Homo sapiens: one gene and its partner. The protein of the gene in region 2 interacts with the protein of the main gene of each other region in a pairwise test. Each region holds a gene or a part of one and is shown on either strand. Other genes may lie near its edges.

Evidence for each region. Proteins that work in one complex are often made in the same cells at the same time.
Region 1: the proteins of NIPSNAP3A (region 2) and EPHX2 interact in a two-hybrid assay, tested with the Homo sapiens proteins (one large-scale study listed by IntAct).

The regions. Positions count from the first base shown.
Region 1 is NC_000008.11:27,536,089-27,539,703, reverse strand, and holds part of EPHX2 (bifunctional epoxide hydrolase 2), read right to left. Parts: intron 2,921-3,615; coding exon 2,849-2,920; intron 1,046-2,848; coding exon 1,012-1,045; intron 1-1,011. UniProt on the Homo sapiens protein: Bifunctional enzyme. The C-terminal domain has epoxide hydrolase activity and acts on epoxides (alkene oxides, oxiranes) and arene oxides. Plays a role in xenobiotic metabolism by degrading potentially toxic epoxides.
Region 2 is NC_000009.12:104,757,619-104,760,671, reverse strand, and holds the end of NIPSNAP3A (protein NipSnap homolog 3A), read right to left. Parts: intron 1,588-3,053; coding exon 1,501-1,587; intron 1,411-1,500; coding exon 1,334-1,410; 3' UTR 552-1,333; downstream 1-551.

The DNA of each region.
Region 1 (3,615 bases), on a different chromosome or scaffold from region 2:
CTGTGGGCTCACTGAGGGTGGCCACCCTGCTTCGTGTGTCTGGGTAGCTGAGCATGCAGCCCCAGCTTCATACCCAGCCTGTGCTCACAGCATTTGAGGAATGAATGAATGGGTGAATGAATGAGTGACAGACGGTGTGAAGGAATAAGGGAATGTGGGTGTGGGGGAGGGAAGGAAGATGTTCTTTGAGCAGTGACAAGAGCATGGCCTGCAGGGTCAGAGGAGTTTAACCCCAGCTCAGCCACTTCGGACAAGTTACTTAACCCTCTGAGACCTGTTTTCCTCTTTGGAAATTAAAAATAGTAGCATTTTTCAGAATGCTTCGAGGATCACAAATATTTTATCTAAAGGGGGTTAGTCCAGAGTTTTATACAGATGGTCAGCACGTGCCCAAACAAGTGACAGTGGTCATCATTATTCATAAAAATACAAGTGAATGCTGTCAAGGCCACAGTGCTGCAGCAAAAATAAGGTCTTGTGGGAAGAGTGCTGGATCTAGGGGCCATGGGGATGAGCTCAAATCAAATCTCAACTCTGACCCTTCACTCATACCCAACCCAGGAGGGAGACAAGGATGAGCTCCAGGTGGGGGAATTGGAAACATGGCGCCTGGATGGAGAGGGGCCAGTGGACTGCAATGGAGGAGACCTGGGCAGGGGCCCCACTCCACTCCACCTGCATACACGAGGTGACCCCCATAGAGGTAAGCTCTCAATCCTGGGGTCCTTATCAGTAGAGGGTGGATTTTGCCCTGGACAAGCTCTAAGACTCCTCCAAGCTCTTACTGCTTAAGATCTTGAAGCCACAGCTCCCTAGAGGGTAGGAACTCCAGGCTGTGTGCTCAGGCCTGGGGTTAGAGTCAGCCCTATGCATGCCGAGGGGACCCTGGTTGGGCAACTTAAAGTTCAGAGCTGGAGAGCTCAGGGCTTCTGCCCATAGCAGTCAGAGACAGAAACATCCCTTTAACATTCAGCTGGTTCCAGATATGGCTCTCCCAAGCATGTCTCTTACCCGCTTCACAGACTTTATGCATGGATAAAACACTCTGAAGGAAGAAAAGAAAAGAGTTACAAATGATGTCATGGGTGATACAAAGGAAATATGCTCATCTGAAAACCCTGTTACGACAAATGACAAAGGAAATATGCTCATCTGAAAACCCTGTTATGACAAATGACCTCTGAGTACCACGCAGACTGTAACAAACATGTGGAACTCCCAAGAGAGCCAGGGACCCCCTCACAGAAGTCAAGTAAAGAGCGGGCTCACGACCAAAGCTCTGGGCTGAGACTGCCCCAGGGCCCTTGCAGACCTTGGTAATATGAAGACCTAGGTTTATCAGCCAATGGGAACAAGAAAAGAGACCTTGGCCTATGATGAGAAGTTGAAGATGTGATATTCCATGCTCCTCCATGGTAAATCCAGTAAATCTGGGGTCTCTGACATGCTATACCCTCAGTGAAAAAATTGATTAGAAAAAAAATCCCCTCATGATGATAAAGATGTTAAAGGAGTTTGTCTGTTTCAGCTTGGTACTAAGAGGAAACCAAAAGACACCCCCTTGGGAATTCATAGCTCTAGGCCTGCCTTCCCAAGTGCTTGGATTTGAGTTTGCATTCTCTGCATGATCTGGAAACTCTCAAGGTGTGAAGTAAACAAGAACAACAACAACAATAACAACAAAGTGAGCCTGGGTTGGTAATGCCACCAGGATGCCTGGCAGAAGAAATCCTTAACCACTCAAGGGGTCATTTCCTCAAGCCCAATTGAAGCAGATGGGTACAGATTAAGTACTGCTGAAGATGAGCTTATAAACCAAAATTACAAAACCCACACTCACACAAAAAGGCCCCACAGCAAGAGGCAAAAAATGTAGCAAACAGTAAATACGACTCCCCAAAAACATCCAATAACAGAGTTTGCGAGAGGGAGAGAGAGAAACAAGAGAGAATTAGAAATGAATATACTTAAAATAATTGAAAACATAAAAGGAACTGAAAAATAAGAATACAACAAGACTCTATCAAAAGAGATCAGAATGATTTGAAAAAGAACCAAATAAAACTTTCACAAATTAAAAAAAACTATTTATTGAAATTAAAACTTCAAAGACAGGTTAAACTGCAGATCAGACACTGCAGTGTCCAGGACAATTAATTGGCTAAGACAATTAATGTATAGGAGGTTAGACCCGAGGCTGACTCACAAGCAATGACAGAAGTTTCTAAAAGAAAATAACCTAAAATTCTATACTCAGATAAATGATTCTTCAAGATTAAAATTAAGATGTCTTCAGGCACCAAAATGTGAATTTACCACCAACAGACTCTTATTGAGAGAACTACTAAAGGGGATGTTTCAGGAAGAAAGAAACTGAACTCAATGCAAATGAGTGAGATGCAAGAAGTGATCAGTAAAGAAAGTAGAAAATATGGGACAGTTTGAGCAGGCACTGACTGTATATAAAACAACAATAGTGATGATGACTCCTAACACCTAAGACAGGAGGGTGCAGCTTACAGAGTTAAAGGTTTCTAAACTCCTCTGCTTCAAGAAGAGGGTTGGGGACATCAATTAATTTTGTACTTGGGTAAGCCAATTATGCATGTTAAAATGGTAATGGTAATAGCATAATTTCCAAGCCATCATTATTATAATCATTCTCTGACCTTGTGTGTCAACGAGGATGTAAATTTTCCCAGTAGAGTGAGGACCTCAATTACCCTGACTATAGAAATGAAAGAAAAGGAGGCCAGATTGCTACTCCTGGTCCCTGCCACACACTAGGTACCCTACTTCCTTCACAACTGCCCCCTCCTGTTCTTCTGCACCCATCCCCACCCCTCACCTCATCGCTTGCTCTGAAGAGGCTTTTGAAAGTCCGACTCAGGTTCTGTTCCAGTTCAGCCTCAGCCACTCCCTAAAACAATCAAGAAAGCAAAATGAAGGACCCCCTAGAAATCGTGGAAACTGTACCCCTCCTTCATCTGACTGAAAGCAACAAGCACCCTACCTGTGCCCCATCCAGCCCAAGTTTCATCAGAATAGCATCCATTTGAATTTTCATCATAAAACATGTCTTTTAAAAAGGTTAGCATAAAATACAAGATGCTAACTGTAGTTCCCCACGGGAGGCAGGTTTATAGATGCCACTTTCTTTGTGTTTTTCAATATTCCTATAATGAGAAGGTACTACTTATAATAATCTCTTGAAAGGACTTGGGAGGGGGCTGGTAGAGGAATGGGTTGGAGGCTGACTGGTGGTAAGAAGAGAGGGGCTCCAAGGATTCTGAGAAACCAAGCAGAAAAGCCAAAAACTATATACCAAATGCTCTTCCATCCAGGCATCTAAATTTCGCTATATTGAGGCCAGGAGTTTAAGAGCAGCCTGGGCAACCTAGCGAGACCCCATCTTTACAAAGAAACTTAAACAATTTTTTTTTTGCTGTAGAAACTTCAAAATCAACTCCTTTGACTTGGGTCTTAATTGTTACAGACCATTAGATTGCCAATAGATTGTATTCCACAGACAGGGCAGCAAGGTTTCCACTGTTAAAGAGCTGGGACACATAGCCTTCCTGGTGACAAATGACCAGGTCCTTCCAGTTCTTGGGA
Region 2 (3,053 bases):
AATAAACATTGAGATGGAAGACTCTTAGACAAAACTCAGAGCCAATGCCTCTAACTTCCGTGATAAGTTTTTACCTCCAGTGTTGGGTCTTCTTTGCCTTAGTAGGAAACTCATCTGTCCTTTGAATCCCTGGGAGCTAGATAAATGAGGGGTTACTATACTTTCTGCTTTTCCAATTTCCCTCAGATGGCTAATTCATAATTTACTATCTTTGCTATATGTAATAGCAGTGTAAAATAAAAATATAAAATAACATAGAAATGTAAAAATAACATAGCTGTAAATATAGATTTCATAGTCTTGGAAGTACCAAATCTACTTTAATAGGAAGCACTCAATTAAAAATTAAAGTTGTTTGTAGGAAAACACTACCACATCTGTGACAGTACTAAAGAAACTCTGATTCTGGGGTTAGTGGGATACAATTTTCTTGAGGTAACTTAATATTTACAGTAAAGACGGTAAATTGGTATTGTCTCATTACCTTATAGCAATACAGCAATAGCTTCAGAAAAGATAAATATATAAAACTCAACAAAAAGAACCAGAAGGTATATGTAGGCTTTTATTAGGGCAAGCATTTCCATATCCATACAGATTTCATTAAAACAAATGGATGTCTCAAGTATCTTTGTTAAACAGGATCCGAAATGAAGTAAATAGTAGTTAAAATTAATTATAAATAAAGACATTTCAGCACATAAACCAACAAGTCTTTTCTAGATTTTTAATACCAGGACCTAACAGCATCATTTTCCAAGTAAGTGACAAATAACTAATGTGAAAACCATATTTAATATAGATGATGTCACAAATGACAATGTGGTTTTCCATAGTAAAGAAATACGTTAATTTTCTTAAATCCTATTTGGTATTACAAAATAAATTTTACTGGTCAAAAAACAACCAAAAAAAACCAGGAAAACAGACATGATGGAAAGGTTGATAAAATATATTAATAACTTAAAAATGCTGTCACAAGCATGGAAATGCTACCATTATCATTTGAATACAACAAAATGCTATAAAGCAAAGAGTTGTCAGAATACAGTAGAAGAGCTATTCTGAAACAAATGAAGAGTCAAGATCTTAAAACAGTGACAAGTATTTTTAATGTATGACAGACACTGAAATACCATGCAGAAAGTAAACAGAACTATTTTTTGAAGTGGTACTTACAAAGCACAGATGTAGCCTTCATAATGCAAGAAACATAGCAAATTAACTTAACACCTCCTTCAAATAAAAGTGAGAACCTCTTGGGAGAATTTAAGCACCATTAGCAGACAGATCCTATAGCAGTTAATGAAATGTTTTGTATTTCAGTAGAAAACTATTTCAGTGGTGAAAACGATGTAGGAATCAGAAGCATATTCTGCTGAGATACTAGGTAGTTGACACTTTCCCGAACTGGAAAAACATTTCATAGAAAGGCATATAGAGTTACTGACTGAAACACATTTGTTCTAAAAATAATTCATGCCTAGTCAAACAGCTTACCAGCTGCCACAACTCTGGGATCCTCATGGGACTTATGTCTCCCAGCTGCACGACTATCTGCACTCTCATTCCACCAAAGAACATGAACTGCAGAAATAAACCACAAGTAGCTTCTAAAAAATATGGCCTTAACAAATAAGAAATAACAGAAAAATGAATCAAACCCATCCTATTCTTTTTTTTTTTTTTTTTTTTTTTTTGAAACAAGAGTTTCACTCTTGTCACCTAGGCTGGAGTGCAGTGGCACGATCTCGGCTCACTGCAACATCTGCCTCCTGGGTTCAAGCGATTCTCCTGCCTCAGCCTCCTGAGTAGCTGGAATTACAGGCGCCCACCACCACGTCCGGCTAATTTTTTTTTTTTTTTGTATTTTTAGTAGAGATGGGGTTTTGCCATGTTGGGCAGGCTGGTCTCGAACTCCTGACCTCAGGTGATCCGCCCACCTTAGCCTCCCAAAGTGCTGAGATTACAGGCGTGAGCCACCGCGCTTGGCCAAAACCATCCTATTCTTTAAATCGAAATAGTGATATCAAAAAGGTAAAACTAAATATGTTACTGATAAGATTTCAGAGGGGTCAGAGACTTGCTAGAGAAATTGATAAATTAATCAAATTGGTTTTATAGATGAAGAAATAGAAGGCTGGAAAACGGAAGTACTGAAGTAAAACAGCTAGAGGCACAATCAAGACAAGACCCAAATTTTATGATTTCCTACTATATTTTCCCTTGATTTTTAAAAAAGCAAAATTATGAGCAAATTGTGCTTATTATTAAAATTTTACATTATACAAAGAAGAAAATTGAAAGTGGTATAATGTTAACAGTATAGAGAAAACCTCTATGGAAATTTATTGTACTTCCTTTAGAAAATATGAGTAAAACCAAATCAGGGTCTTATTGTATATTATAATAACAGATTTAGCTTAGTAACAAGTTTTTAAAAACAGTATTTTCTATGGCAATATTAATTTTTAATGGTTATATAAATTCCTCCTTACAGATACAGCAACTTATTATGTCAACCCCTTATTGTTGACTATTTAGACTATTTCCAATATTTCAGTATTCTATAAAATACTGGAATAAATGTTGTTCTTGTACAAAATTGCTTATGAAGTTTTTATAATTGTAATATATACATGTTAGATGTATAGGAAAATGCAGATTAAAAACAAACTAATCATTTTATTTTTGGTGTATCTCTTTTATATTTGGTGTATCTCTTTCTATATTTGTGTATATATGTATTTTTATTTTTTAATTTTAATTTTATTTTTATTTTTGTAGAGACAGGTTCCCACTTTGTTGCCCAGGCTGGTCTCGAACTCCTAGCCTCAAGCAATCCTACTGCCTTGGCATCCCAAAGTGTTGGGATTACAGGCATGAACCACCACGCCTGGCCTGTATTTTTATATATAGTTGTATATGTATACAAATAAACATATATAAGCATATTTGCTTATGCTTATGTAAATACACGATATGACGTACATGTATATCGATTTCTGTATTACGTATGTATTACATAAAGAAGGTCATACTACATTTCCAAT